Homo sapiens: one gene and its partner. The protein of the gene in region 1 purifies or fractionates together with the protein of each later gene. This does not show direct contact. Each region holds a gene or a part of one and is shown in the gene's direction. Other genes may lie near its edges.

Region 1 (3,500 bases):
TCTTCCACAAATAGAACCAGACTACATATTATATAGTTGTCTATATCTGAAAGGGTTTTTTTTAGGCCATTCTTGAGTATCATCGATATGTCATTATTGACAGTGGGAGGGCCTTGCCTATGTAGCTATACTGCAGCGTTAAACTTGATAACTACTTGATCACATCCTCATCTGCCAGTATACTACTGCTTACAAAATTAATTCATTACTGAATGTATTTACTATGTATAGATATTTGAATTCTCTTGGGTCCTTATTTATCAAGCATTTACTATGTGCCAAGAATCATGATAAATTCTTTCTTTACATGATTTACTTCCTTTAGTTCCTAACAATCTAATGAAGCACTCACCACTATCCTTGTATTTCAGAGAGGGAAACAGTGGTTCTTAGAGATTAGGTGGCTTGTCCAAGGTCACAAAGCTAATAAACCACAGAGCCAGGATTCAAATTGAGTTTGGTCATATTTAAATTTCTACTCTTAACCTTTCCACTTATATACTCTACTCATATTAAGTGTTAATTAATTATCTCATTGTAATGAGATACATTTAAATTCATAAAAAATATAAATTCATAAAGAAATTCATAAAAAAATTTTTTGTAACCATATGAGTATCCTAAATTTGGTCTATTTTCTAAGGTCAGATAAAGGTTTATGATAACTTTTAAAACGTTCCAGCCTCATGTCCCCATAGAAAAATCTATGAAAATAAAACAAATATACCAAAATCTAATCACTGAGCCAGCAGAGATGCCAATTTCTCAGGCTGTCTCAAACACCATCCTTAGTAAGTCCAAAATAATGTCACACTTATAAAAACAAACAAAACAACAACAACAACACACACACACACCTTTTTCACCAGTTCCTTGTTCTTTTTCAGGTTTTATTGCCTTTTCCACCAATCCCAGCCTGGCTAAAAGAATCAAAACCTTCTATGCTCTAGCTCCTGTTGCCACTGTGAAGTATACAAAAAGCCTTATAAACAAACTTAGATTTGTTCCTCAATCCCTCTTCAAGGTATGCAATTCTCTTTAATTAAGTGAATCTAAGACCCTTGATTGCCCATGGATTTTAAAGTTATAGAAAGAGAACAGAGTTATAAAAAGAGAACAATCATTTTTATATCCAAAAATGGAACTGTTCGCATCTGTATTATTTCTTCCATAGCACTGACCATGTTTGAATCTCCTTACAGCCTGCGAGATCCCCCTTTCTTTCTTTGTTCTTCATGTGAGTCAGCAATGCCTGGGAGTAGTTTTGCTTTTTCACAGATGGTTTGTTTATTAAGCACTCTACACAGTTGTGTCAAGGCTGTGATTCCACTCCAGGAGGAGGGAAGATGAAATAAAAACAAAACAAAATAGTCAAATGAGAAGACTAACCCACTTGGGCCAGAGAGACTGGAAAGAGGAGGGAAAGGAAGGGGAGGGAAAGGGAGAAAAGGAGGAAATAAATCAGTGATTGAGTGAGGCAAACACCTTGAGATCTCTCATGGCTTTCCCTTTTGGCTTTCCTAAGAGCTCCTTCATCTTTAAATGGGCGATCTCATAAGTCAGTGGTGTGGATTTCAATAAATTATAAATATTAAGTGCCTTATGCAGTAGGCACACATGTTATGGAATTAATCGTTTTGTTTGACAATGCTTAATACCCTAATTCTCTCACCCAGTAAAACCAACACACACACACACACACACACACACACACACACACACACACACACTCTCTCTCTCTCTCTCTCTCTTTCCTTTAGGGGAACGGTTTAGCCTCAGGTTATAAAATATAAGGATTCCATTTCCTTCTATGGTTTTGTACTATTCATCTCTTTTCATTCTGTATTAATATGTATGTCTAAAGCCTAAGAGAACTTACCTATAGGCAAACTACATTTGGAAAACTTTTATTAAAATCTAAAATTTTTTGATGGCCCAGAAATATTTATTGGCTACATTGATTGAGAACTTATTTCCTACTCATACTCAGATTTTCTGATAGGCAATGCAGACGTAGATTAAAATTTAGAAAAGCAATAGACCTCAAGTTAGAGGCTTGGGTAAGGATTCTAGGTATAATCGAGCTCTAATTAGCCCAAGACCCTAACTCATGTTAACCTCATGTTTCCTCGTGTATAAAATAGAGATGACAAAATATCTGCCTTCCTCAAAGAGAGTTGGGGCAAACTCTTTCAATTCTTATACTGAGCCTCATTGCCTCTGTAAAGGCTTTGCTGAAAATATGGCCAAGTCACCATTTCTCCTCCCAAACTTTTCACAATTTATTGCTGAAATCTCACATCTTGGCACTTCATTATGACAGTCTGTCATGTGTTTTTAAGATTTTATCCCACAACTCCTATCACCCCAACTAGATTGTAACTCTTTGTGTCTTATACTTCCTCTCAGCAGCCAGTACAGTTCTCAGTGCCACAATAGATACCTAGTATTGATATCTGTGCTGCCCATTTCACAACTTTATTAGGGAATTAACTAAATGAAAGTATTGGAAATTCCTAAAACAACATGTAAGAATAAGAATATATCATCATCCTCATCACACATGTATAAGTAGATTAGATAAACTAGTGAGTCTTTTCTGCAGCTTGATTGCTACAACCCTCTAATAGTGCCTTTATTTTTCAGTTTATATTTGGTGACAAAATATTCTACCCACACAACTTCTTTGATCAATTTCTTGCTACTGAAGTGTGCTCCCGTGAGATGCTGAATCTCCTTTGCAGCAATGCCTTATTTATAATTTGTGGATTTGACAGTAAGAACTTTAACACGGTTAGTATGCATTTCAATTTCTATATTTTGAGCAACATCTTTGATTACTTGTTTCATTGCCACTTAGAAGTGGTACTTTATGAGAACTAGGAGTAGGTTCAGAACTGCGATATCCTGATAAACATGAGAGAAATCACAAATCATTGCTCCCAATTTAATCACTTCCAGCATCCTTCCATCACCCCAGTTGCCCCTAAACCAAATAAACAACATGAAGAAAAAACACAATTCACTACTCACTTATGACCACCTAAATACTAGGTGTTACATTTAAATTCTGTAAGAGAAAGGACTGAACCATATATTTTAGCAGGCTCCTTTGTGAGAAAAATGTCTAGATATTGAATAAATGTTTTCAATAAATATTTCTAATGCTGACAGTCATTTTGATAAATCTTACAGACTATATTTCTGAGCAACTATTTATGTAAGACTTTGCCCATATTCTTTTTTTGAGATAGAGTCTCGCTGTCACCCAGGCTGGAGTGCAGTGGCGCAATCTCGGCTCATAGCAAGCTCCGCCTCTTGGGTTCACGCCATTCTCCTGCCTCAGCCTCCCGAGTAGCTGGAACTACAGGCGCCCGCCACCACGCCCGGCTAATTTTTTGTATTTTTAGTACAGTCGGGGTTTCATCGCGTTAGCCAGGATGGTCTCAATTTCCTGACCTCATGATCCACACGCCTCAGCTTCCCAAAGTGCTGGGATT
Region 2 (3,500 bases), on another chromosome or scaffold:
AAACCCATCTCAACACAAAATGCAAAATTTAGTGTTCTTGAATTGTCTGGTAATTTTATAATTGGAGTAACTTCTGAAAAGAATGTTACAAATAGATCCCAAAAAACAACTTCCAAATTAGCAGGCACCTTTAAATACTTCAAAAGAGTAAAATTTTAATCAAAATGATTATTAGAAAGAAAGATAATATTTTAGATAAAATTGAATTAAACTAAGCTAAAATTTTTGTTGAGTAATTTGTTAAAGTTGTTTACCTTTTAAATACAGTGAGCTAGCTATACCACTTTAGTGCTAATGCTTTAGGCAAATTGCCTAGAGAATTTGCTTCTCCAAATCTTACATTATTCAAAACACAGATCAAATAAAAGCTCTCCTCACCAGCCACTTTCTGACCTGTTGTATTGTTTGATCACTAATCTGACCTGTTGTATTGTTTGATCACATTCTGCCATATATTTAAATTATTTGTGTTCATCCCTTTCCTCAGGATTGTGAACACCTTGAAAGCAGTACTACCGTTTAATTATTTTTCACCAAATGTTCTAACATTGTGCCTCATATATTCTAGATTTCTAAATAAATATTTAAAAACAAATTAAAGGCCGGGCGCAGTGGCTCACACCTGTAATCTCAGCACTTTGGGAGGCTGAGGCGGGCGAATCACGAGGTCAGGAGATCGAGACCATCCTGGCTAACATGGTGAAACCCCGTCTCTACTGAAAATACAAACAAAATTAGCCAGACCTGGTGGCATGCACCTGTAGTCACAGATACTCTGGAGGCTGAGGCAGGAGAATCACTTGAACCTGGGAGGCGGAGGTTGCAGTGAGCCGAGATTGCGCCACTGCACTCCAGCCTGGGTGACAGAGCAAGACTCCGTCTCAAAAAAAAAAAAAAAATTAAACATTTCTGTTTAGCATAGAGGTAATGTAAATTCTCTTAAAAATCTTGATTTTGATAATTAAGGTTTTTTTTCTTTTTAAACCAGATATAATAACCCTGAGAAACTTTTGGAAACAAGATGTGGACGGTGTGGCGAGTGGGCCAATTGTTTTACACTGTGCTGCCGAGCTGTAGGGTTTGAAGCTCGCTATGTTTGGGATTACACAGGTACAGAATGTGGAATGAGCAGAGGGTAGTAGGGCTTTGCAGGCTTGCAGGTTTGGGTTTACATTCTGAGCCCATGATTCTCTGTTACTTTTTGGCCTTGTCAGTCTGACCTTCCATTTGCCTTGTGTAAAACAGTAATAATACCAACCTTCCAGGTTTTTTGAAGGGATCACAAGAGTTTTGTAAAACACCTAGCACTGTGCCTGGTGCTTTGCACTATAAATATTCCTTTTTTTCCCCTTTATTTTTTTATTGATGCATAATAGATGTACATATTTGGGGGATACTTGTAATGCATTTATATAAATTCTACAGAGCAAATCAGTATTATTGGGATGTCTGAGATCTTAAATATTTGTCTTTATGCTGGAAACATTTGAATTACTCTCTTCTAGCTATTATGAAATATGCAGTGGATTATTGTAAACTGTAAACACCCTATTGATCTATCAAACACTAGGTCTTGTTTCTTTTATTAGCAATTTACCGTGGCATTTATAGTGATGCTGTTTATATATGGATAAAAACATGTAATAATGTACCATAGAAATCTTCATTGCTATAGGGATTACTGTAAAAAATTTAGTAAACTATAAACTTAAAGCACAGTATACAGAAATAATAAAAGTCATGTGATATTTGTGTTGTCCCTATTTAGAAATAACTTGTGTGGTCTACATGTTAAAAAGTTGTTTTCCTTGTGTTTCCATTTTCTAAAGAATTAAATGAAACCTTCCATTAATAGTTAGTGTTCTCTTAAAATCAAATATAAAGCATGTATTGACCAGAGATTCTATTAGACTTCCTGCTGGTTCTGGGCCTTAAAGTCCAGAGAGAGAGACTGTAGTTTCAAAAGTGGCATTAACTCCTTCATGATAGTAAACTCAGGATGATATTTTTTATGCTGCTCTTTAATATGTCTACCTTCTTAAGAGTTACAGCGCACATTAAGCCTAAAACTGACCACGTTAAAGGAGATTGGAAAAACATTTTTAAGGATTTCAAAGAGACAGAAATTAATACAGGTATTCTAAAATCCTGTGTGCCACAAAATGCACTTATTAACTGAAATTCAGAATATTATGCATTACTTTATGATTCTTAGGAGTTTGTGTATAGTTATTGAAAGTCATTCTGATTTCATTGTCTTTTTTCCATTGCTCTCTTTTCTCTTACTTGAGTAGACCATGTCTGGACAGAAGTCTATTCTCCTTCTCAGCAGCGGTGGCTGCACTGTGATGCATGTGAAGATGTCTGTGACAAGCCACTCCTTTATGAAATAGGATGGGGCAAGAAGCTTTCCTATGTCATAGCATTTTCAAAAGATGAGGTAGAGCATAAAAGAAAAAAACTTTTTTCCAAAAGTAAAATATATTTTTTTCTTTTATGACAGCTTCATGAATGTATAATTAACATACAATAACCTGCATATATTTAAATTGTACAGTTTGATAAGTTTTATTTGTATACACTGAAATCATCACTGCAAATCAGTATTCATTGTATGGATGTGCCATAGTTTACCATTTCACCTGTTGATGGCTATTTGGGTAGTTCCCAGTTTTTTTCACAATTTCAAATTAAGCTGCCATGAACACTCAGGCACACAAGTCTTTATATGGGCATATGCTGCCTTTTCTCTTTGCTTAATGCCTAGGAGTAGAATGGCTGCATTATATGGTAGATATACATACAACTTTTTAAGAAACCACTAAACTATTTTCCAACGTGGTTGTGCCATTTTACATTTTCGCAAGCAGTATGTAAGTTTCCAGTTTCTCCATGTCCTTGCTAACATTTAGTATGATCTGACTTTTTAATTTTATCCCCTTTAATAGGTGTGTAGTGGCATTTCATTATGGTTTTTATTTGTACTTCCCTAATGACAAATAATACTGAGCATCTTTTTATGTGTTTGCTTACCATCCATATGTCCCCTTTGCTTATTTTTTTTAATTGGGTATTGTGTTTTCTTACTGTTTGGTTTTGAGAGTTCTTTATATATTCTTATATAAGTCCATTATCAGATATGTGCTTTGCAAAGATTTTTCTCCCTATCTGTAGTTTGTCTTTTTATGCTCTTAATGATTTTTGAAGAGAAGAAACTGGCGTTCAGTTTACCAATTGGTTGTTTTATGGATTGTGCTTTTTGATGTTATATTTAAGAAATTTTGCCTAGCCCTTGGTCACAATGATTTTCTCCTATGTTTTGTTTTAGAAGTTTTTTTTGGTTTTATGCTTATGTCTGCAATCCATTTTGAGTTAATTTTTTTATATGATCCAAGGTGTATGAAGTTTTTTTTTACATATGGATAATGAATTGTTCTAGCACCATTTATTGAAAAGATTATTTTTTCTCCATTGAATTGTCTTTCCACTTGTATCAAAAA

Evidence for each region. Proteins that work in one complex are often made in the same cells at the same time.
Region 2: the proteins of LIPF (region 1) and NGLY1 purify together in Homo sapiens (affinity purification with mass spectrometry; one large-scale study listed by BioGRID and IntAct). This does not show direct contact.

The regions. Positions count from the first base shown.
Region 1 is NC_000010.11:88,670,942-88,674,441, forward strand, and holds part of LIPF (gastric triacylglycerol lipase isoform 2 precursor), read left to right. Parts: intron 1-887; coding exon 888-1,024; intron 1,025-2,646; coding exon 2,647-2,793; intron 2,794-3,500. UniProt on the Homo sapiens protein: Catalyzes the hydrolysis of triacylglycerols to yield free fatty acids, diacylglycerol, monoacylglycerol, and glycerol. Shows a preferential hydrolysis at the sn-3 position of triacylglycerol.
Region 2 is NC_000003.12:25,734,944-25,738,443, reverse strand, and holds part of NGLY1 (peptide-N(4)-(N-acetyl-beta-glucosaminyl)asparagine amidase), read left to right. Parts: intron 1-988; coding exon 989-1,110; intron 1,111-2,043; coding exon of another isoform or gene 2,044-2,135; intron 2,136-2,294; coding exon 2,295-2,440; intron 2,441-3,500. UniProt on the Homo sapiens protein: Specifically deglycosylates the denatured form of N-linked glycoproteins in the cytoplasm and assists their proteasome-mediated degradation. Cleaves the beta-aspartyl-glucosamine (GlcNAc) of the glycan and the amide side chain of Asn, converting Asn to Asp.